Linked DNA regions of Homo sapiens: regions 1 and 2 are each linked to region 3. The links come from fine-mapping of genetic effects on gene expression. A gene starts in region 3. Each other region holds a variant in brackets. All regions are shown on one strand. Distances are from middle to middle. Region 1 overlaps MIR34AHG (MIR34A host gene). Region 2 overlaps SPSB1 (splA/ryanodine receptor domain and SOCS box containing 1). Region 3 holds the start of SPSB1 (splA/ryanodine receptor domain and SOCS box containing 1).

The links.
Region 1: its variant is fine-mapped to the expression of SPSB1 in macrophages (Nedelec 2016, PIP 0.95).
Region 2: its variant is fine-mapped to the expression of SPSB1 in whole blood (INTERVAL, PIP 0.97).

Annotation. Positions count from the first base shown.
Region 1 is chr1:9,162,491-9,170,666 of GRCh38, reverse strand. The region is part of intron 1 of MIR34AHG (MIR34A host gene); the gene reads left to right. Among named protein-coding and RNA genes, the nearest start is that of MIR34A, 15 kb to the right of the region's middle. RefSeq lists enhancers at 134-633, 634-1,135, 6,413-6,742 and silencers at 5,853-5,902, 7,673-7,742, 7,893-7,962. The variant T/G (reference allele first, on the strand shown) is at 4,581.
Region 2 is chr1:9,361,741-9,369,905 of GRCh38, reverse strand. It overlaps SPSB1 (splA/ryanodine receptor domain and SOCS box containing 1), which reads right to left. Exons shown (of 3, transcript NM_025106.4): 3 at 374-2,458. The coding sequence ends at 2,331. Among named protein-coding and RNA genes, the nearest start is that of LINC02606, 63 kb to the left of the region's middle. The variant G/A (reference allele first, on the strand shown) is at 4,425.
Region 3 is chr1:9,289,371-9,297,546 of GRCh38, reverse strand. It overlaps SPSB1 (splA/ryanodine receptor domain and SOCS box containing 1), which reads right to left and starts at 4,653. Exons shown (of 3, transcript NM_025106.4): 1 at 4,476-4,653. RefSeq lists silencers at 3,719-4,008, 4,549-4,618, 4,689-4,768, 4,819-4,988.

The DNA of each region.
Region 1 (8,176 bases), 130 kb after region 3:
GATCGTGCTACTGCACTCCAGCCTGGGTGACAGAGCAAGTCTCAGTTTTAAAAAAAAATTAGGTGTACTCAAAGATGGTCTGAAATGGAAGTGTGACTCCCTGCAGTTACAGTTTTGTTTTTTTATAATTTTTTTGAGACAGAGTCTCACACTGTCACCTGGGCTGGAGTGCAATGGCATGATATCGGCTCACTGCAACCTCCACTTCCCAGGTTCAAGCGATTCTCCTGCCTCAACCTCCTGAGTAGCTGGGACTGCAGGTGTCTGCCACCACACCTGGCTAATTTTTTGTATTTTTAGTGGAGATGGGGTTTCACCATGTTAGCCAGAATGGTCTCGATCTCTTGACCTTGTGATCCACCTGCCTCGGCCTCCCAAAGTGCTGGGATTACAGTCATGAGCCACAGCGCTCGGCCCCAGTTACAGTTTTTAAAGCACTTTCCCATCTGCTGCCTCACCTGTGTTTTCTGGGCTGACGACAGACTAAACACCTGAGGCTCAGCCTGATCATTAAGCTCTTGAAGGATTGGAACGTGCGGTCCGCTGACAGCGCAGGCTGGCTGGCAGCGCTGCCCGTCTTTTTTTGCCCACTCCTCCTCCTGTGCTTTCTCAACAGACCTTTACTGGCACTCACTATGTCCTGTCTGCTGGGCTAGGTGCTGGGAGTAGGAACAGGAAGCTGACACTCAGTCTGGTGAGAGGGAGGTACAAGCGAGTTGGCCACCATGATGCAGGGAGACGTGTGATGCTTGGGGTGGGCACTGGGAGCCCATAGCTGAGTGAGGGGGGTTGTAGGGCGCTTAACCGAGGCCTGAAGGATGAGTAAGAGTTACTTGTGAAGCTAGAAGGGTGGGGCCTCAAGGCAGAGAGGCTGGCCCCAGAAGGCCTGGGGGGCATAGAGCCAGCATCTGAGTGAGGAGGGCCCTGGTCTGTGAGCTCAGGGACACCTCCCCTTATGCTGCCTGCCTCCACCCAATCTCCTTCAGTGAGCTGGTTTGTGGCTGAAATTCAGCCATTAGAGCTTCATTCTTTTGGCTTAAGCCAGATAGAAAATGTATTCCAGTCCTGGCACCATGGCTCACGCCTATAATCCCAGCACTTTGGGAGGCCGAGGCGGGTGGATCACCTGAGGTCAGGAGTTTAAGACCAGCCTGGCCAACATGGGGAAACCCCGTGTCTGCAAAAATACAAAAATTAGCCGGGTGTGGTGGTGCACACCTGTAATCCCAGCTACTTGGGAGGCTGAAGCAGGAGAATCACTTGAACCCGGGAGGCAGAGGTTGCAGTGAGCCAAGAGCATGTCATTGCACTCCAGCCTGGGCAACAGAGCGAGCCTCTGTCTCAAAAAAAGAAAAGAAAAGAAAATGTATTCCATATTCAAATGCAGAATCCACTGAAGATGAGTCTCCTGCGGCACCAACCCATTCCACATCAGGGCATCTGGTATTTACCCAAGGGTAGGTTTTGCCATGAACCAGGGGTCAGGCAAGGGCCAAAGACACCGAGTACTTGTAGATGTGATTGGAAAGCAAATCATCTCTATATGGGGACAGGAAGAGAGAGGACAGCGCTTGGTGGTCCACACATGTTCCTTGGGCCAGCCGTGGGCTATCCCCCCACATTCAGACATTGGGTCCTGACACTCTTTATAAAAACACTCTGTGTTGAGTCCCTTCCCTGTGGATGGAAGGAAGTAGGTTTCCTCCAGGAACGCATGGCCCAGTGTGGTGAACTTGTATCTGCTTGGCTCCTGTCTCTTCCACTGCCTGCTCCCTTGCATCCCAGATCACTGGTTCACCCCCAGGTCTGGCAGCCTTTACAGAGTACCAGGACCCCGGATGGGGGCTACAGGGAACTGTGCTTCTCCCATGTGACCCAGAGAGGCAGCAAAGGGACTTCTCCATCTAGCCCACTGGAAACATTGCTTTTATTTGCCTTTGCACCATATATTCTTTTTTTAATTTTTTTTTATTTTTTAGAGACAGGGTTTCACCATGTTGCCCCGGCTGGTTTCGAACTCCTGGGCTCAAGTGATCTGCCGGCCTTGGCCTCCCAAAGTTCTGGGATTACAGGTATGAGCCACTGTGCTCAGCCCTGCACCATATATTCTTGAACTAAAGACACATACACACACGCATGCACACACACACACACACACTTTAGATTATTTTGAATATTATCAACCTATCCATTTTCCTTGACATTTTTCAATGTATAGTATGTCCTCAAAATATGATGTTATGCCCACATTGCATTTATTTTATTTTATTTTTAGAGACAGGGTCTTGCTCTGTTGCTCAGGCTGGAGTACAGTGGTGTGATCATAGCCTACTGCAGCCTCAAAATCCTGGGTTCAAGCGATCCTCCCTCCTCAGCCTCTTGAGTAACTGGGACTACAGGTGCACACCTGGATGATTTTAAAATATTTTTTTAGAGATGGCCTCTCCCTGTGTTGCCCAAGCTGGTCTCAAACTCCTGGGCTCAAGAGATCCTCCCACCTCAGCTTCCCAAAGCATTAGGATTACAGGTGTGAGCCACCGTGCCTGGTCTGAATTTCTTGCTTTACATGTTAGCTGGGAAGTAGATGCCCTCAAGAATGGTGGAGCATATGAGCTGTCCCTCTAGGTCAGTCCCATGGCCACCCAGCTCCAGCCCTGTCTCTAGGTGTGTGAATCCCTTTTGCACAACAGAGAGCCTGGGGAGGTGGAAGGTCTTGGTGACACCTTGTGAGTTATTCACACTGGCTGTGGGTGACAGAGCCAGAGGTGGGAGCACAGAGCTCTCACAGCACAGAGGAGTAAGGAGTTGAAGCTGCAGAAACAATGCTGAGGCCTGAGGTGGAGGAACAGTTGTAAATGGAAAATTAGACGGCAGTTCTGCAGGTTGGAAAGTGGGTGATAAAGTGGGCGTGCAGGCACCATTCCAGGAGGCTGTGCCTTGTGTGCATTGAGAGCAGGTCAGGTGGCCAGGAGGCTCCAAGCTTAAAGCTGCCAGGTGAGCCAAGCATTTTTTTTTTTTTTTTTTTTTTGAGACAGAGTCTCCTTCTGTCACCCAGGCTGGAGTGCAGTAGCGCGATCTTGGCTCACTGCAACTTCTGCCTCCCAGGTTCAAGTGATTCTCCTGCCTCAGCCTCCTGAATAGCTGGGATTACAGGCGTGCGTCACACGCCCAGCTAATTTTTGTATTTTTAGTAGAGATGGGGTTTCACCATGTTGGTCAGGCTGGTCAGGCTGGTCTTGAACTCCTAACCTCGTGATCTGCCTGCCTTGTCCTCCCAAAGTGCTGGGATTACAGGGTGAGCCACTGCGCCTGGCCTTTCTTTCTTTTTTCTTTTTCTTTTTCTTTTTTTTTTTTTTTGAGACAGTCTCACTCTGTCACCCAGGCTGGAGTGCAGTGGTGCCATCTCGGCTCACTGCAACTTCCACCTCTGGGGTTCATGCGATTCTCCTGCCTCAGCCTACCGAGTAGCTGAGATTACAGGTGTGTGCCACCACGCCTGGCTAATTTTTGTATTTTTGGAGACACCAGTTTCACCATGTTGGCCAGGCTGATCTTGAACTGCTGACCTCAGGTGATTCCGCCTGCCTCGGCCTCCCAAAGTGCTGGGATGACAGGCATGAGCCACCACGCCCGGCCTGGGCCAAGCATTTTTGCAGTGACTTTCCTCCTTGTGAGCAGCCTCAGAGGCAGGCACTGGATCCAGAACCTCGTCTTGATCCTAACAGCCTCTGTGTGCCAGCTGCAATAGCATCCAAGCTACAGGGAAGCAGTTTCTATTTTCGCATTGGAGTCAGCGGCTCCTGCCTGCCTGGTGGGTCGCATCCTCCCATTCTTTGCTCAAACTTCAAAAGGGCCTTCCAGGATCCGCCTTCCCAGGGTACATTGAAGAGCTGGTGTTTCCCCACATCCACCCTCTCTCCCGAGGAAAGGCCGTGGTCTGAGGGGAACGGCAGTGGCAGGGGCCACCTACTCAGGGGGAGTGCAGGCAGGAGGTCTAGGGGTGTAAGATGGGCAGCCTCCCTGCTGCAGGGGGCTCCCAGCTGGAGCGTGGACTTGTTTCTCTCATTTCCTGAGGTTTGCTGGAGACAGGCGTTTGCTTAGCGCCGGGAGCTGTCTCCTGTGGTCTCTGTCCTTTGACTTATTCAGAGTCTCACTTGGCGTCGGTTTTCCAGGGTCTGGTAACCAGGATGAATGACGCATGGAGTTGCAACCCAGACTGCAGTTCAGGAGTTTCCCAAGCAGGCAAGGCTCTGTATCCCGTGAAAGGGGGTGTGGATACGAGATATTCTGCCCTTATTCTTATTTTTTCCTAATGTTCTTTTAGATTTATAAAATAAGTAATAATACTCATAAAAACTCAAACGGGCCAGACGCGGTGGCTCATGCTTGTAATCCCAGCACTTTGGGAGGCTGAGGCTGGAGAAACACTTGAGCCCAGAGGTTTGAGACCAGCTTGAGCAACATAGTAAGACCCTGTCTCTAAAAGAATTGTTTTAAACATTAGCCGGGTTGCCAGGTGCAGTGGCTGACGTCTGTAATCCCAGCACTCTGGGAGGCCGAGATGGGCAGATCACCTGAGG[T/G]TAGGAGTTCGAGACTAGCCTGGTCAACATAGTGAAACCCCGTCTCTACTAAAAATACAAAAATTTAGCCAGGTGTGGTGGCGCACACCTGTAATCCCAGCTACTTGGGAGGCTGAGGCAGGAGAATTGCTTGAATCCGGGAGGCAGAGGTTGCAGTGAGCCGAGATCACACCACGGCACTCCAGCCTGAAGGACAGGGTGAGACTCCGTCTCAAAAAAAAAAAAAAAAAAGATTAGCTAGGCGTGGTATGGTGGTGCACACCTGTGGTCCCAGCTACTAGAGGAGCTGAGGGGGTAAGATGGATGGCTGGAGCCGGGGAGGTTGAGGCTCTGGTGAGCTATGATCATGCCACTGTGCTGCAGCTCAGCGGGTGACAAAGCCAGACCCTGTCTCTGAAAAAAAAAAAAAAAAAAAGTCAAGCAATTCATATGTAGATGCAGTTAATGAGCTGGGCCTATTTCTGTCCTGCTTCTTCCCTAAGTCCCCAAACACCTCCCATATCAGCCTTGGGCATGTGTCCTTCCGGTTCACCCACTTCTTGGAGATGCTTTCTGTTGACTATTTGCTGAACTCTGTGGCCGCCCAGAAAATACTCCAGGGAGTGTGATGTGCGTCTATTTCCGGAGCCTCATTTCAGCAGGACTGGTGCCTGGTCAGGGTCTAGACCCTCCACCTCAGGGCCTGCCGTGGAGCAGCCAGAACCCTGGCTTCCCCCAGGTCCCCTAGACAGGCTGCTGTCACCTCTGCCCAGCTCTGGACTCTGGGGTCTCCCCAGATGAATGCACGGCTCCCTCTCCCCCAGGCCCTCATCGGGGACAGGTGGCCTCTGCATGTTCCACTGGTCTGGCAGGTCAAGAACTCAGATTGTTTTAACAGTGGGTGAGGCTTTTATGTATTCAGGTGAGACAACGAATGTGAAAGCTCATTGTCACCTGTAAAGCACCTACCAGTCTGCTGTGACGATGACGGGATGATGAGAACTGTCATCGCTCCTTCTCATTCCTGTGGCTTTACTGTGGGACCTTGAGAGCCAGAGCAGCAGGGGGGAGGTTCTGAGGGTCTAGAAGCCTCGGCAAGGGGCTGTTGCAGCCAGGGGCAGTCAGGCAGGGTCACCCATGCAGGGGCAGCCAAGTGGCTTGCCCAAGCTGGGGTCTATGCCTAGAGGACCCTCCAAAGATGCTGACCCCCTGAAGCCTGGCATCACCCAGGGAGGAGCTGTCACCACCATGGCCCTCTGGGCTACTAAAAACAACCTTTTGCCCAGGACTTGCAAGGAAGAGAGAGAGAGTTCTCGGTGGATGAGAACAGTTTTTCAGTGGCAGTGCTACAGACATTTGGGGCCAGATGATTTTTTGTGGTGGGGGCTGCCCTGTGCACTGTAGGATGTTTAGCGGCATTCCTGGCTTCTACCCACTAGAAGCCAGGAGCACTCCCTACCCTTCAATTGTGATAATCAAAAACGTCTGGGTTTTTTTCTTCTTTTTTTTTTTGAGACAGAGTCTTGCTCTGTCACCCAGGCTGGAGTGCAGTGATGCGATCTTGGCTCACTGCAACCTCCACCTCCCAGTCTCAAGTGATTCTCCTGCTTCAGCCTCCCAAGTAGTTGGGATTACAGGTGTGTGCCACCATGCCCAGTTAAGTTTTGCATTTTTAGTGGAGATAGGGTCTTGTCATGTTGGCCAGGCTGGTCTCGAACTCCTGACCTCAAGTGATCTGCCCGCCTCGGCCTCCCAAAGTGCTGGGATTACAGGCATGAGCCACCACACCCGGCCCCAAAAATGTCTTTAGATATTGCCAAATGTCCCCTGGGTGACAAAATCATCCCCCAAACTGCTGGATTAGAGGCTTTGGAAATGGATTTTCTGTGACCACTGCTTCACCATTGTAAGCTGCCTCTCATTTGGGTGCAGTTTTCTTTGTTCCTTTTCCAAAAAGCTGACCTCATCGGGCCCATTTGTTTGTTTCGTTGACTCACCCAGTCTAACCGCAAGCAGCCTTCCTCCTCTGGGGGATCCCAAATGACTTATCATGGGACTTTGTATGTAAATTTCAAAGATTATTTTCTACTAAATCAGAGGCAGAAATCCTCAACTTCTTTTTTAGCAGCCTTGGTAAATACTTCCTTAGAGTGTTTAAGGGGCGTGCCGCACTCCTGCTGGTGGTCTGATTGTGAACACCTTTGCTGTTCAGTTCCCTGAAATCGCCAAATATTTCCCTCTCCTTTGGGTCTCAGCCCAGTGACTAGCGGATGATCTAAGGGCCAGGGCGGTCTGAGTTGGCTAGTGCACCGGGGATTTTCTTAAGGCCTTTGACCCGGGGACTGGTGTGGGAGGAAGGCAAAGGCCTGGTTGTTTATGAGCAAGGAGGAGTCAGGTCCGAGGATGGAGCCCTTCGGGGTCACTGCCCTGGGCCCTGCCCCTCTCCTGCACATCAGGCCCCTTGGACAAGGCCCGTGTGTTTGCAGGACCCTCTTGGGGCAGCAGAGCAAGGGCTGGCTTTGAGAGAGAGCCTCACTTTTTTGTTTTTTTTTTTTTTTTTTTTTTTAAGTAGAGACGGGGTTTCTCCATGTTGGTCAGGCCAGTCTTGAACTCCTCACCTCAGGTGATCTGCCCTCCTCGGCCTCCCAAAGTGCTGGGATTACAGGCGTGAGCGACCGCGCTCGGCCAGGGCTTCACTTTCAAGCTCAGTGCTGCTCTGAGGGGTGGACACAGCCCTGATGTCAGTAGCTGAAGACCTGCCTGGCCACACTCAGCAGCAGTTAGCCTTCTCCTCCCGCGCCCCGTGAACAAGGCTGTACCCTGGGAGGTTGGGCTCTGTCTGAATTCCATCACAGGTCCTCTCCTGGGCCTTGCCCTGCTTTGTTGCCTCCTTAGGAGGATGTCTTCTGGTTTCCTAGGAAGGGCTTTATATCTTAACATCCACCCTGCATTCAAAACCCAAGTTATCAAGACCACAGGGCACCACAACCCTCCTCTTGGCCTTGCGGTTTCTATTCTTCAGTGACTCCCAGAGGTTTGGCTTGATTGGCAGCTTAGAAGCACATGATTGAACTTGAGCAGTGGTTGAAACTCAGAGTCAGATGCCTGACCCGCCCCAATCCCAGGCACAGAGTCTGACCTCACACCCAGGCTGTGCTGTGTACTCAGTTGTTCAGTATCGACTTGAGCTTGACGGGCATCAGGGGCCAGGGAGTGAAAGGGAAGAGAAGCCAAATCTGGCTGCTAAGGGCTCTCAGTCCTGGAGGGCAGGAAAATAGTGGCCTTGCCGCTAGACCTGATGCCACCTGCCCCTCCAGCTGTACCCCCTCAACACCTTGGGTAATACCTCAAGCCCCACGTCCTCTTCCAAGCCAGATAGGACCCCAAGTGCTGGGTGATCCTTATTGAAGGGTAGGGACAGGAGGGACCCGTGGGATTGTGTGTGCTCAGAGCGGAGTTCAGGGGCACCTGAGGGCAAACTGTCTCTTTGCTCCCAGGGCTGTCCTCCGTGCCTTTACCTGTGCTGGGCCCTGGCAGAGCTCTGAGTCTTCTGGATTCCAGCGTCCATAGTAGCTAGTCTGTCCACTGCTGGAGAAAAGCTGCTTTCCCAAAATAGC
Region 2 (8,165 bases), 72 kb before region 3:
CACAATGGCTCACACTCTGCTCCTAAAAAGCCCACGGTCAACTCAAGTTCTACAACCCCACAAACCAACCTGATGCGCTCACGAAGGCACAGAATCACTGTCTGTTAGACTTGGCAAGTTTCTGCAGCTTGGGCTGCCAGGCTGAGGAACTTCTGAAATGGGGATGAGGCTGTTCTGGGGTCCTCCCTCCAGGACTCTCCTTCTCCTTCTCTGTCTGGGGCTTTGCCTGGCATCCCACCCTCTGCCAAGGGGTGGTAGGGAGTCAGCCCATCATCTGCTGAAAACTGTGGGCCGTGGAGCTGGCTGGACCCAGGAGGGGTCAGCTATGTCTCTTTCCCCTCCCCCGAGGCACAAACGAGGAATTCAAAAATGGTTTGATATTTTAACAAACGTTCCTTTATTAGGTTACTGACTATTATCAACCATCATAAAATAGAACGGGAGTTTCAAAACTGTACAAGCCACAAGGCTCTGGGCTGGTAGGAAAGAAGGGTGGGGTCGAGGGTCCCAGGGTGTCGGGGGGTGGGAGATGCAGAGAGAGCTAGAGGGTCACCCGGCATCTGTGAGGACGGCTGGGTCAAGGCCATAAGCTGGGATCTGTACAAGGGAAACATTCATCAGAATGTGACCCACCTGAAACAGGAGGGAGGAAAATCTTTAAAAGTCTTACAGGTAAGGTCCCCTGCCCCGAAAAAAAAAACCGTCAAAATAATAAGGGGGTAATGTACATTTCTCACCCAGTCTTGGCACCAATTTTGTGCTTTAAAAAATATACTCCACTGTAAGATTTACTTAAAAAAAGGTACTCTACAGCAGCTGTTTAAAACATAATTCTTACAGACAAATATATATATATGTATGTATATATATTAAACATTTTAAACAAATAAAGTCATCTATTGTACCTGTGCAGAAATGAACCAAAGTTAGACTCTAAGAGAGTTAACTTCAAGCTCAAAGAAATGGCAAAGGCGGTGGCAGGTGCTGGGGTACGCTACGTGGAGGGGTTGCCAGGGATAGGGCACCCCTCTCTTCCGGCAGCCGAGCTACCCCTCTTGAGGCTCTGAGAGGGGTTGGGATGAACTGGGGCTGTTACCCTGGGTCCAGAGCCCCGGCTGGGGTGCTGAGCAGAGACCCGCGCTGGCTTCTGTGAGGCTCGACTCTGCTCCTGGTCTTCCCCATCCCACCCTGCCCCCGGCTTCTCGGGGAATGGAGACCCACTCGCCCTCCCTTCTTAGTTCTGGGGGTCCTCTGGCACACCCAGAGCTTCTGAGGATGCACTTGGGAAATCTCAGCTAGAAAAGCAAAAGCAAAATCAAACCCACATCAAAAGACCCACAGAAGACTAAAGAAATGCAACCCTGTGCAAGGGTGCCTGAGCCCAAGAGTTAGCTGGTTACCTGGAGACACAGGGGAATTGCTGCAGCCCTTCCAGACGGGCCCCCGAAGACACCCAGATTGCACGTGAGGCTATTTCTCCCTGAGGGGCCCGCTAGGGAACTTGGAGCAGAGCCCCCTGGAAACTGCAGGGCAAGGGACCCAGAGACATACTTGTGCCTGGGCACGTGTGCACATGTGCCCAGGGAGGGCGGGCGAGGCATACATATCCCAGGGAGGGCACAGGTGGAAGGAAAGTAACAGAACAGCCAGAGAGAGGGGACTGAAACAGGGTTTCCTTTCTAGATGGAATAAATAAATGGCTTTTGTTATTGTTAAAAGAATAAATACAGGGTACGGGGCACCGGCAGCCAGGATGGGTGCTGGGTGCTTATTTGCCTGCAGACAGTTCTTGGTTTCTGCCTTGGGGTCCATGGTGAGTTTTTGACGTCCTGAGCTTTATCTGCCATGGCATGGCCCCGCTGGGCACCCTGGGCCGGGCACCAGCCCTTGTCTAAGCACCTCTTAGTACCCCTGGTATCTGCTCTCAGAGCTGTGGTACCACCTGCCACCCCCACCACCCTGGGACCCCCAGGTGGCTGCAGCCTTCTCCCAGAGGTGTGGGAAGCACCCGTCCCACCCCGAGCAGATTGGAGCTCAATGTAGGGCTTTCGTAGGAGTTTATTCTCTGTGTCTTTTTTCAAAGAGGGGTTGTATACGGACGGCATGCAGGGATGCTGCCTTCTGCTGATGTCGGGAAGGGGGAAAGAGGAGCCTGTGTTGGAATCGGTCCTTGTCCCATGGAGGCAGCCACGGAGGATGAGGGAAGACCAGGGACCTCTGTCCATGGCTACGGATGCCGGTCCAAGGTGCAGGGTGCGGCGGCCCCAGCGGCAGGCGGCTCAGTGAGTTGGCACCAGGTGGCTGTCGCGCTGGCGGTATGATGGCGAACGTCACTGGTAGAGGAGGTAGGCCTTGAGGGAAGCCGGCAGCGGCAGCGTGTGGATCTCCCCCAGGCGCTCCCTCCCCAGGGCCAGGCGCACCGAGCGACGGCACAAATCCATGAGCGGCAGCGGCTCGGCTGGGGAGACAGAGAAACTGCAGGTCAGCGCAGCTTGGGTGGGTGTTCAGCAAACAGCGCTAACCACAGCAGCAATATTATCACTGATTAGTATTCACTCAAATCAGTAAAGAAACAATGAAAAATGCAATGCTTTTTCATTTTAAATTTAGCATGTGAATAGCTGCCACCAGGAGCCCACCCTGGGCTGGGCACCTGGGCGAGCCCTCTGCTAACACTCATTTAATCCTCACAGTGGTTTCTTATGAATGACTTAATAGTCACAGAGACACCATTACCTTCATCCCCATTTTACAGATGAGGAAACTGAGGGACAGAGTCTAAATGACTTGCCAGGGGTCGCCCTGCTGGCAGGAGATGCAGCTAGGATTCGAACCCAGGCGATCCCTGCTCTTCCCCACTGGTGACTCTGCCTGTCCAGGCAAGCAGCTGCCATTGGGGCCTGTCGGTCGGAACACATGGGAGCCAGCTCTTCCTGGCACGCACCCCCAGCACTAGCTTCAGGAAGGGAATCATTTTCTGTTACCAGCTGCTCTCAGATACCATTCTCACCTCTGTTTTAAAGCTGAAGACTAGCTGGGCATGGTGGTTCACGCTGGTAATCCCAGCATTTTGGGAGGCCAAGGTGGGTGGATCATTTGAGGCCAGGAGTTCAAGACCAGCCTGGCCAACATGGTGAAACCCCGTCTCTACTAAAAATACAAAAATTAGTTGGGCGTGGTGGTGTGTGCCTGTAATCCCAGCTACTCAGGAGTCTGAGGCAGGAGAATCGCTTGAACCTGGGAGATGGAGGTTGCAGTGGGCTGAGATCACGCCACTGCACTCTAGCTGGGCGACAGAGCAAGACTCGGTCCAAAAAAAAAAAAAAAAGAACTGAGGACACACAGGCACAGAGGGGACACCCAGTGTGCCAAGGTTCAGGGCTGGGATCTGAATCCAGGCAGCCTGGGCCCAGCGTCCATGCCCTTAGCCACTAACCATGCTGCAAAGGAAGACATGGCAAACCCTGTCCTGAATCATACGTGACAGGCCTGGCTGGCCCCACGGCCTGAAGGTGTCATTTCTGTGCCACATGGAGACAGAGAAACCCCGGGTGTCTGTGCTTCTGTCTGACAGTGAGGCTGAGGGCCCAGGCCAAGCTCAGGCCCCAGGAAACTGGAAATGCCAGCCCAGTTTCAGCTGATCCCCCAGAGCTGCCTGGGCCTTCTCCCCGCAACTGCCCCAGGCACATGGGGCTCTCTCACAGCCAGGGGAACTTGGGCAGAGCTGCCTCAGGCCCCAGGGTTACAGAGCGCTTCCAGCTGCAGCCTCCCAGGCACCTCCATCCTGTGTTCCCAGAGCGCCCAGCCTTGCCTTCCTACAAAGGAGGCTGAGTTCATTCAGCTGCATCTCAGATGAGCCGTCAGCTTCAGATCTCAGGAGTCTGAAACTCATGCCTTCCAAGGCTTCTGAGCGTTGGAAGGCTGCGCGGCCCTGCTCGCCCGCTTCGCCAGAGCAGACCCCTCTTTGCTCTCTTTCCTGAAACCAGGTAGGAGTGAGCACACCTGGACCTTCGTGGGGCCGCCCACGCTGTTCTGCAGATGGAAAGCCCTGAAACTAATGGATCTGAGGCTTCATCCACGGTCTCCCCTTGACTTTGAGACTCCTTTGTGAGCAAAATAGCCCCCAAAACTAAAAGGAACCCGCAAAACTCCATCCTACCAGTAAAAAGTGGATTAAAGTTCTTTAATATTCACCAATGTGTCTCAAATATACGAAAATCAATTACTGAAGACCAAACACTACGGGTGGGGCATGGCAGAATGGAGAGAGGCTGCTTATGGGTATAGGGTTTCTTTTTGGGGTGATGAAAATGTTCTAAAATTGTTTCCTACATCTCACCACGCAAGAGGCCACTGAATTGGATACTTTAATGGGTGAATTGTAAGGTATGTGAATTATAGCTCAGTAAAGCTGTTACAAAATA[G/A]AAGAATGGACCTTAGGCTTGATAATGCATTTACTAAACCCCAAGCTTTAAAAGAAGAGGGACCAGGTCAGGCACAGTGGCTCATACCTGTAATCCCAGCACTTTGGGAGGCCAAGGACAGAAGACTGCTTGAGCCCAGGAGTTTGAGACCAGCCTGAGCAACATAGGGAGACCTCATCGCTACAAAAAATAAAAATCAGCCAGGACTTGGGAGACTGAGGCGAGAGGATCGGTTGGGCCCAGGAGGTCAAGGCTGCAGTAAGCTGTGATTGTGCCACTGTATTCCAGCCTGCGTAACAGAGACCTTGTCTCAAAAATGAAAACAGGCCAGGTGTGGTGGCTCACGCCTGTAATCCCAGCACTTCGGGAGGCCGAGGCCGGCGCATTACCTGAGGGCAGGAGTTCAAGACCAGCCTGGCCAACATGGTGAACCCTCATCTCTACTAAAATTAGTATACAAAAATGAGCCAGGCATGGTGGCATGGGCCTGTAGTCCCGGCTACTCGGGAGGCTAAGGCAGGAGAATCACTTGAACCTGGGAGGTGGAGGTTGCAGTGACCCGAGATCACACCATCGCACTCCAGCCTGGGGTGACGGAGCAAGACTCTGTCTCAGAAAAACCAACAACAACAACGACAACAACAACAACAAAACAACAACAAAAAAACCCCAAAACTGAAAAAATAAATAAACAAAAGAAGAGGGACCACTGCTCTTCATCCCCCATGGACGGTCACAGCCACAGCTCCTGACAAGGAACTGAAATGTTCTGTATTTTTAATGGAGAATTTTGAAAGGGGGCCTTTCGTGGCCAGCTTAGGATGATTAAGAGGAGCTCTGATTGGAGACGAATGGAGGAATGAAATAACCTTGGGTTCTTTAAGGTCAAGGATCCCACAGACCCCTCGTGATGGGGTGGGACTGGGTTCCACCCACCCGGCTCCTCACAGGGTTGGGTTTCCCTCGGGTAAAACACCCAGCCTGGTGACTCCAGACCCTGCCCCGCAGCCTGACCTGGAGCACATCCCTCCGTCTGCCCGGACTTGTTTCCCCATCTGTAAGACACGGAATCCAGACCAGATTCTCCCCAAAGTCCCATGCAGCCAAGATCCTGAAGGCCAGAAGTGCTTATCGCAGCCTGTGGTCTGGCCTGGCTGTCGGGAGTAGGTCTTCTGCACAGAGGAGTGGGGAATTTGCAGGTGTGTTCTCTTCTCTGCTTGGGAGCGCGCCTGCATCTGGCCTGCATCAGGGCCAAGGGGTCTGGGCTGCCCTGAGCTCCCTCCCGGGAGAATGTGGCTCAGCCCCCGCCGGAAAGTGGAGGGGCTCTCCCTCGTGGCTGGAAAGCACCTGAGAAAGCTCCAAGAGCCACTGAATGTGGCCCAAGAGCCCTGCCAGGCTGCAGCAGTGAGGGCTGAGAGGGAGTTCAGTCACTACCCTCTTGGTGTAACGGGTTTCCAATCAACCCATGAAGAAATGTTTCTAGGCTGGACGCGGTGGCTTATGCCTGTAATCCCAGCACTTTGGGAGGCCGAGGTGGGTGATCACCTGAGGTCAGGAGTTTGAGACCAGCCTGGCCAGTGTGGCAAAACCTCATCTCTATTAAAAATACAAAAATTAGCTGGGTGTGGTCGTGCATGCCTGTAGTCCCAGCTACTTGGGAGTTTGAGGCAGGAGGATTGCTTGAACCTGGGAGGCAGAGGTTTGCAGTGAGCTGAGATTGCGCCACTGCACTACAGCCTGGGTGACAGAATGAGACTCCATCTCCAAAAAAAAAAAAATTTTCTAAAACTGCAGAGGCCCACATGAGCCCCCAGCTCCATCCAGTGCCTTATTTTGAGTGGCTGACACCGCAGCCCCAGCCCCAGCCATGGCCTGTGGGGCACCAGTCGTGTGCCTGATGGGGACTGTGACCCCAACCTACAGATAGGGAAATGGGCTTGGGGAGGTGAGAGTTACAGGTCCAAGGTCTGAGAGCCATGGACTCCAAAGGGATGAGGCCCTCCAGCTGCCACAATCCATCCCCTGTGAACGCAGCTGTGTGGGGTAGAGGACTTGCCACAGCCTGGCCATCTCTGGATCTCACTGAATAAACCAGTTAGGGATGGGTCATGGGATCCACCAAGACGGGCTAGAGAAGTGGCAGTGAATGGCTGCAGTGATGTGTTATGAGCTGAAAATAGGACCAGAGTCACCCAGGCATCCTGTGAATGGGTCTCTTCTCTGGGTCCTCAAGTACATAAACAGGTCACGCCTCCTTGATCTTGCAGGAGGAAACTGATGGCGCATAGGGCCCGGTCTAACTGCTTTCCAAAGGCTGGGCAGAGACCAAGAATGCATGGCCACAGAAACAGACGTGGGCTTCGTGCCGTGAAAAAATGCCCAGCCCCCATTTCAGCTGGTCACTACCAGTACCAGGGAGTTCTCCCCAACCTCCACACTCTTGACTGGGGGCTGCCAGCTTTGCACCCAGCTCCAGCCACAAACCCAGGTGCCTGCTGAAATCTACCGAGGGGGTGGGCACCTGCACTGTGGCCTGGGGCCTCTGGCTGCTATGCCCATCCCCAGGAAGCTTAGGCGCTCATTCATTTAAATAATTTCTGTGAATGAGAGTGCAATGCTGAATGAGCAGCAAAGAAATCAGGAAGTCAATCAGGCGCTATTTCTGGGAGCAGAAGCCTGAGGAACTGGAAGAGACAGTGCACCAGCTTCCACATTTCTGTGAGAAACGGCTACCTGGTGGCCCACGTGAACATGCACAGCCCCAGAGCCCCAACCCACAACTGTCTCACTGTTCCCCGAGAGATTTCAACCCAACTCAAGCCTCAAGAGTGTGGTGCTGTGCCCAGTTCACGGGCTGAGTGAACGAGCTGCAGAACGGTGAGGTCAAGGAAAAATGTTCCGCATCAGAGAATGCCCCGGCTTCCGCAATGTCCTCGCTGACAGCTGTCATGGCTCCTGTGGCTGGCCCTGCAAGCAGCTTGTGGGGACCACGCTCCAGGACATGGATTCTAGAATGTCACGGGTCGGGTGGCCATCATAGGATGTGTGTGTGTTTTCCTCTACACTACGCAGTTCTTACGAAAGAGCACAGCCAAACACAACGTGGAGCCTTTGTCCTTGTCAACTGGGGAAGGACGCCTGAGATCCACCTAGGTGATCAGACACCCTTGGTCCCCTATCCCCCCCAAACTCTGAGAGCCTGCGGTCCTCATATGACCAGAACTTCTGGAGGGTGTGGGGAATAGGGTCTGGGACAACCCCTCCCCGACATGGAAGGAAGGAAGGAAGGGAGGGAGGGAGGGTGGGTGGCCCTGGTGGCGGTGTATCAGTCTCCCGATGAGTAGCTCCCGGCAGAGTCCAGCTGGAGTGGAGTGCAGGAAGGAGGCACCCGGGAGGAGGCTCTGATCTTGAGGAGACGAGCTGACCTTCCCTGAACCTTCAACCACGACAAACCACACCAAACCCATCTGGGAGCCGTTAAAGAAAATTCGAAAATGCTGAACTGCATGGAAGATGCCTCCTCAGTGGGAGATGTCTTTAAAGCAGTGGGGGTAGAGCCAGAGGACCCACAAGGTCAGGGGCTCCCCCTGGACAGCCTGCCAGCCTGCTGCTTGCAAACAGGCCTTTCCACATCTCCAGGGAGGGTGGCGGGCAGGCCCGGGGTCAGGCCAGGCCCTGTGTCTCCCCACTCAGCAATGGCCATCTCCACTCCTGCCCTCCAGGAGAGAGAGGGAGAGTGAC
Region 3 (8,176 bases):
CCACACATGCTCCCTTGGTGTCTGCTTGTATAAATTAGAAAACTCAAGTGGTTCTCTTGGTGTGGAGTGCAGCTCCTCACTCTGACCTTGGAAAGGGTGTGACCAGATTGGCCACACTCTGACTGTCTGGCAAGGTGTGTTCACAACTGGGGCACCCGTCAAGCCCTTGTCACAGGTAGGTTTTTCCAACCCTGGAATCCTATATTCCTACTCAGCAGTCATTTCTCAAGTGTGGAGTTTGCATCCTGATATTTTCTTCATCTTGTGCTCAAATCACCCAATGCCTCCCTAGTTTTCCAAGAGACGCCCAAGGGTGGCAGAGGTTCTTGGATTCCTCCACCCATCGCCTACGCAGTAAACTCAAGAGGGTCAGGCTAAGCTTCAGGTCAGATTCAGAGCTTGTTGACAAACCATTCTCACAGTCACATCTCCTGACACCCAGCCCTGCCACAAATCCCATGCCTGCATTGCACAAGGTCTGGACCTCAATGGCAGGCAAGGCTGGGCTGTGCCTTGGCGGATTCTCTTCCCCATCTCCAAGAAAGGCCCCGAGAGCCTAAGCCTGTTGTTGATGTGGTCTGTCTCATGACCACTGGACTCATTTATTTTTAACGTTGGGCAATGAACAGAACTTTTAAAACACAAAGCAAACAGGCAGCTTCCCAAAGGTTTCAGGGGGTTGGCAGCAGGACAGATCCCCCAATGTGCTGTTGGGTTTTGCCATCCTCCCTTTGTCCAAGCAAGGAAGGAGCCTCAAGCCCAAGTCAGAAAGGACGTACATCTCCCGACTCTTGCCCCGCATAGAGTAACAGTCAACCTCTTTGAGATGTGATGCTTCCTTTAAATGCTTCTTAGGAAGAAGCTACAGATGACCTGACATCTTGTATTTGCTTCAAAATAATCCAGCGTGTGTGTGTATGTGTGCATATATGTGTGTGCATATGTATGTGTGTGTACACATGTGCACATCTTCTGTGAGCATAAGTATGCATGTGCATATGTGAGTATGTGTATGTGTGTGCATGCGAGGTGAGGAAACCTGATCGCTCATTATACTCTGCCTCTAACTTTGGTGTGTTTGACATTTTCCATAATAACAAAAAATTTCACTAAAAAAATGAGCCCATGCTTCTTGAAGAAAAGGCTCAGGTGGTGGAGGTGACAAACTTACTGGTGAAGGGCTTGGGTGCCAAGTCTGGATTCGAGTTTTGGCTCCACCATTCCCTTGCCGCGAGACCTTAGCCAAGTTACCTGCAATCCTCAGCAGAATGGACATGGAGGCAAAACCCACTTCTCAGGGTCCTCAGGAAGCCCATGAGTCAATGCGTCAAGGACTCAGATCAGAGCCAGTACTCGCACGCACCGTGAAACCATGAAACCATTTCCCGCTATTATTATGCTTAGGATTCAAACAAAGTCACGTCCATAAAGCACTCTGTAGCACAGAGCCGGGCACCTGGCTGCCAGTGGAACTTTAGACTGGGGGAGATGTTATCAGATAACTGGGGGAGGGGAGAGCACTCACTGAAAGTCCAAAATCGAAGTCCCTTAGAGTCTGGATTTCACTGATCTAGTGTTGAGGGCTGGGGAGAGGATAACACACCCCTGGGCAGACTGAGGCACACCTGTACCTGACCTTGTGCTGTCGTCTGATAAAATTTTTCAGAACCAAAAGATACACTGAGTCATGCACACCAGCTACAACCTATTTCTCGAGAAAAATTGATACAAAATGCCCAGACGAACTCATGAACACCGTAAGAATCAGAGGTTTCGCTGAATTTGAAAATGCGTCTGCAGGCAAGTTTCCATCCACCCAGGAGGAGGGGCAGGTGCAGGAAGGGAGCACGGCACACACCATGGGGGTGGGAGGGCAGCGCTGGCTTCCACGGGCTAGGCCCCCACCCCATTCCCCAGCTCTGGTGAAGAAATTCAACATCTGTGATGATTCCAAGGGGGTGAGATTCTGCAGCAGCCCAGAGGGACCCACTGAAGGGTGGATCCAGCCTTACTACAGCAGCCCAAGAAACGGCCTCACCCAGCTCCAAAGTGACATCACCAGGGCCCCAGGCAGGCCCACCCCTTCCTAAGAGCCCTGAAACCCACTGATTCTTCCCAGGGCCAGGTCTCTCTTAAGCCGGCATGGCACCCGCCTTGCTCCCTGCTCGGGGCTGTCTGAGCCACTGGGGCCAACATGCTACTGCTTTTGTTTTCTCTGCTGCTAGGGTGGTAGCCAGACTGGAAAAGGAAGACTTGTAAAGTGATTGCCTTAGTCCACTCCACACCTCCCCAACCGCACGCGCGCACACACACACACACACACACACACTCACACTCTCACACACACACACACACTCCATCTACTGGGTAAAGTGCTCCCTGCAGAAGAAAAGCAGCTGTAAGAGAGCAGGAGTGCTTTAAATGATCTAATCCAGCCCATCACTTCACAGCTGGGGAGACACGAAGTGCCTGGCCCATGACCTCAGTGCTGGGGACAGTAACCAAGAGCAACAGTTTCAGGACTGGGGAGTCTTGGTCCACAGCCCTGGCTGTGCAGTCTGGGTAAGTGAACCGCCCTCTCTGGGCCTCTCTAGGACAGGCTGGCCTAGACAGTAAGACAGGACTTCCCTGACTCCAAAATTCCTCAGTGTGGAGAGACCACCTGTGCTGCCCATGCTTAGCCCAGGGCTTTCCACCACTGGGAGGGGGGTCTGAGGAGGGGGACAGGGCAGAAGGGAGAGGCCCCCATCCCCTTCCTTGCTTGCTGTTCTCCTCACACCCCACGATGAGAAATGAAGTTGTGGGCCCAGCCCCCCCAACGAGAAAATTCTTCCAAGGACATCAAACCTTAGTCACCAGGGATGGCGCTTTTACCATGAACACCTGTTAAAACTCAACTCATGACCAGTTTCTGATGCTACAGACTGGAGTGTTTAATTAAATATTACTCACTCAGGAAGCAGCCCCTGCCAACTCACCCCCAAACTGTGTAGTTCATTTTCAGAGAAATGGAGAGAGGAAGAGCCTGCGCTCTCCTCGGGGGCACCAGCAGGGCTTGCCTAGTGGGGTGTCTGTGGCCCAGCATGCCCGGCTATCCAGAACCAAGTAAAGAAATCACCATGAGGAGCAGTACCTAGGAACCAGAGGGCCCCCTGGATGGTCCCCACACACACTCACAGAGAAACACACACAAAGACACACAGACACACACTTGGAGACACACAGACACTCACACATACACAGACGCACTCAGAGACACAGACACAGAGACAGACACAGAGACACGTGTGGACACACAAAGAGACACAAAGACACACACACGCAAAGACACACACAGACACAAAGACACAGAGACACACATTTGCAGAGACAGACACTCAGAGACACAAACTTGCAGAGACACACACCCAAAGACACATACACACTCACACACAGACACACACAAAGACACACAGACATACACAGAGAGGCACACACAAATACACAAAGACGCACTCAGACACACACACACACACACAGTCACTTAGAGTCTCAGGCACACATTGACAGACACACAGACTCACACACACACTCAGAGGCACATAAATACACAGATGCACTTAGAGACACACTCACACACACACCCACATGAACACACAGACACACTCATACGCAGGCACATATTCACAAGGACATGCACAAACACACACGCAGATGCACTCTCAGAGACACCCGCTCTTCCTGCAGACCCGCACCCTCCTCTCGGGGCCGTCCCGTCCTCACCGGAACCTGGACGCCACCGAGCCCAGTACACGCCCGGGGACGGTGACCCATCCGCGGTTCCTCCCGCGGGCCCAGGCCGCCCTTGTTTTTCTGATTTAATCGATTTCCTGACAACCCTCCGGCTCTCCCTCCGCTGCTGGGAGAAGCCGCGGCGGCTCCGGGGCGGCGGGGAGGGCGGCGCTCGGGTGTCCCCGGCAGGCTCCCTGGGGGAGGCGCTGCGGGAGGGTGGGGGCGCCCCGACGGGGGACCGGGCCGCGCCGCCAATCCCGACTCGGACTGGCGGGAAAAGCGAAACTAACTCAGCCGAGCGGGGTCCCGCTTTCCCCGGGCTAAAGGGGGGACGGGTCGGCGGCCCCGGAGCGCCCCAGCCCCTCCTCGGGACCGCAACTCGTTGCGACGGTCCCCGCGCCCCGAGACCCCCGCCGCGCCTCGCCCCGGGACCCCCTGCCCTGCAGCGGCGGCAGCGCGGGGCGGGCCTGGGCCCCTCTCCCAGGAGCCGCGGCGAGGGAGGCGCCCCCGGAGCCACCGCGGGAGGGGCCGCGCCCCGAGTCCCCATCCCGTACTCCACCCGCTCCCCCGCGCCCGGCCCCGCGCCACCCACTCGGTCCCCCAGCGGCGCGATCCCCGCGTCCGCCCTCGCCCGGCCCCCCGCGCCTCCCCCTCCCGGGCCGGTCGCCCACCCATCGGGGTCCCAGGTGCCCCGCGCCGCCTACCGCGCCCGGGGTGCCGCCGCCGCCGCTGCTCTCCAAGGCCGAGGAGGCTCGGGCGCCCGGGCCGCGCCCGCCGCAGGGAGCGAAGTCGCCTCCTCCCCGCGGCCCCGGCCCCGGCGCCGGCGCCTGGAGCCTGGTTCCTGCTGCGAGCGCGCAGGCTGCCCGAGCGCGACTTCTGTGCGGAGGAGAAAAAGCAACCGACGGCTTTAAAGTGAAAAAAAAGAGAAAAGCGCCGGTGGGCGGGGCCGTCCCTGCCCCGCCCCGCCCCGCCCCGCCCCCGACCTCGGGCGCACGGACCACTCAGCACTGCAGGGAAGGCCGGGGGCGCGGGGCGCGGGGCGCGGGGCGCGTCAGCCCGGCGCTGGTTCGGCCGCCCCCTCCGCCCCCTTAGTCCGCAGCCCTCTCCCGAGCCGCCGCCCTGGTGTTGCCGGCCCGAAGCTCGGGTCCCTCCGGAGGCGTCTTTGGGAAACGCGTGGCGCAGGGCCTGGGTTGCAGCCGTGGGAGGCTGGAGTGGGGGCGGGGGTCTTACGAGAAGGAGAAATCTTCGCGGAGAGTGGGGTTGTCCCAGGAACCCCGAGCAAGGCCTCGCCGGCCTCCTCTGAAGTGCCCAGCGGGGACGAGTGGGCAGCCGCCGGGGGTCCAGGGAGCCTCCTGCAGCGCTGTTTCGGCCGCTCGCGTTTCGGTGCCCACGGGGACGGGGGCCTCGGACCTCGAGACCCTGAGGGCGCGGGCACCTGGCATCCGCAGGGCTGCTCCCTGAACAGGTCCCAGCCTCTGGGGACTTGTCCTGTGGCTCTAGCTCGTTCAAGGAATTTTCCTCCCCCTTCCCCGAACAGAGCAGTCACTTGGGACTGGGAAGATTTTAAAGACTTTGCTGTTTTGAGAGCAAAATCTCCTGGCATTCCCCACCCCTCGCTGTGTAGTGTCCATTGAAAACGGTGAGGAGTTAGCCTTTCTGGGGGAGCCGAAACAAATAGCGGGGCTTCCGTAGTTACTGTGTCTTTACCATAACCCAGTACAGTGAGGGTGGGACTAATGACACACTCACTGTAAAGGCGAGGAAACAGTGCCTGGCCCGAGGCCAGCTGTCCAGAGCTTGGAACCCAATTGAACTGTGAGATTACAAAGTTTGATGTCTCTCATTTTACGGTGCTGAAAATCAGTTTGGTTTAGCTTTGTTTGAACTCAGAATAGGATTACGGAGACTCAACCAACTGCCCTGGGCTGGGCGGGCCTGAGTGGGCATTCTGACTTTCCAGGTGCCAGCGGTTTAGGAATGTTGAACCCAGACTAGTCAGGTGGGCAGCCATGGCCAGCAGCTTAGGGGTGCTTCCCATTTAAAAGATCACTTGAGGCTGGAGGTGGTGGCTCTCACGCCCTTAATCCCCACACTTTGGGTGGCTGAGGCAGGCAGATCACTTAAGCCCAGGAGTTCAAGAGCAGCCCGGGCAACAGAGCAAGACACAGACTCTGCACAAAAATTAAATAATAATAATAATAATTGGCCGGGCATGATGGCTCACACCTGTAATCCCAGCGCTTTGGGAGGCTGAGGCAGGTGGATCACCTGAGGTCAGAAGTTCAGGACCAGGCTGGGCTTGGTGGCTCACACCTGTAATCCCAGCACTTTGGGAGGTCGAGGCGGGCGGATCACGAGGTCAGGAGATGGAGACCATCCTGGCTAACACGATGAAACCCGTCACTACTACAAATATAAAAAATTAGCCAGGCGTGGTGGCGGGCATCTGTAAGTCCCAGCTACTTGGGAGGCTGAGGCAGGAGAATGGTGTGAACCCGGGAGGCAGAGATTGCAGTGAGCCGAGATTGCGCCACTGCACTCCAGCCCAGGTGACAGAGCGAGACTCCGTCTCACAAAAAAAAAAAAAAAAAAAAAAAAAGAAGTTCAGGACCAGCCTGGCCAACATGGCAACACTCCATCTCTACTGAAAATGCAAAAATTAGCTGGGTGTGGTGGTACGTGCCTGCGATCCCAGCTACTCGGGAGGCTGAGGCAGGAGAATCTCTTGAACCCAGGAGGCAGAGGTTGCAGTGAGCCGACATCGCACCACTGCACTCCAGCCTGGGCAACAGAGCGAGACTCCATCTCAAAAAAAAAGAAAAAAAAGGTAATAATAATTTTAAAAGAGCATATGACCCCCTCCAGCCACTCTGCAGTTTGAGAACTGTTGTTTACTTGGGAGACTGGTGAGAGCCTCTGGGACAGGCCCATGGGGTGCAGCCCACGTCAGTCATTGCTGAAAATCACAGCTGCCTCTGATGGGTTCATTTCTCCTTGGGAGAGTAGCCCTGTTTGGTGGATTATTCACTGTGTGTGTGGCATCTACCAGACACTGGCATCTCATGGGGCTGGTGCTACGGCCACGTGGCCTGGGGCCATGGTGTTGTCAGCTTTGCTAAGAGGAACTCCACCAAGCCTCACCTCTTAACATCTGGGAAGCTTCCAGGGCAGACTGGGGCACTTTGGAGCTAGAGACCCAGCTTTGATGTTTAAGGCCCTGAAAGACAGTTCCTGATGAAAAGTCTTCAGCACCCCCACCCCACCCCCCTTCGGCGTTAATCTGGAAATCTCAGCTCTTGATCCAGTTGAATAATTAGACCCTGCTGACCTAAATTTCCCAGAAGAACCCCTGGGGAGTGGGCCTTCTCTCCTCCAGGACGCTGGGCAGGTTGGCCGGATGATGGAAGGCTGGTCAGCCGGCAGTGACTGCTGCAGCATGGGGCAATGTTGAGCAATCCTGGAAGCCAGTTTATGTGTCAGAAGGGCTCAGAATCACCCTAGCATGCTGATACTATTGTTTGTTAAAAAAAGATACATAATCTTGCAACATTGTGACATAAGCTGATAGATACTATCCAAAAATTTGAAGGGTGACTCAGGACTTATACAAAGATCTGTGTACTGCAGGGGTGAGTCGGGAGGGAGGTGGCTCTGGGCTCCCAGTGGTGTCATCCCCAACCCCCTCCCCAACTCCACCCCACCCCCACACACATTTTATCACTTGCATCAGCACAATTTGCTCATGTCTTTAATCTGTCTCCGGGAAATGGTGAAGAGAAACTTGATAGATGGTGAATTAGCATCAGCTGCTTTTTCTGATGATGGTTCTGAGCCTTGAGCTCTTAGCACAGAATCCTGCTGCCCTCACAAGTGTTAAAGGCTGCCATCTTCTCTGAATCCCTTTTGCTGATTGGAGCAAATGTGCAAAGGATTTGGTAATAGACAAACCCAATGCAACCCCCAGCTCTGCTATTCATCAGCTGTGTGACCTTGAGCAAGTTACTTAACCTTTCTGAGATTTCCTGTTCTCATCTGTAGAACTGCTCTACACATTTCCCCAGAAACTGGGGAGGTGGTGCAATCATTCAACCAACATTAACTGAACACAATTAATTGTGCTAGAATGAAATCAAGGATTTTGAGAATTTTCAAGATAATAGGTTTTTTTTTTAAAGAAAAGCTTGGTATCCACAACACAGAATTGTAGCAAGATCCACCAGAACATGAAGAACACTGAAGCATATTAATAAAATCTACATCTATTATGCATCCTTAGCATAAGATGTGTACTTATCTCATGATGCAAAACAGAAGTAGAGTGTTTATATGTTAATTAAAAAAAAAAAATAGAGGCAGGGTCTTACCATGTTGCCCAGGCTGGTCTTGAACTTCTGGGCTCAAGTGA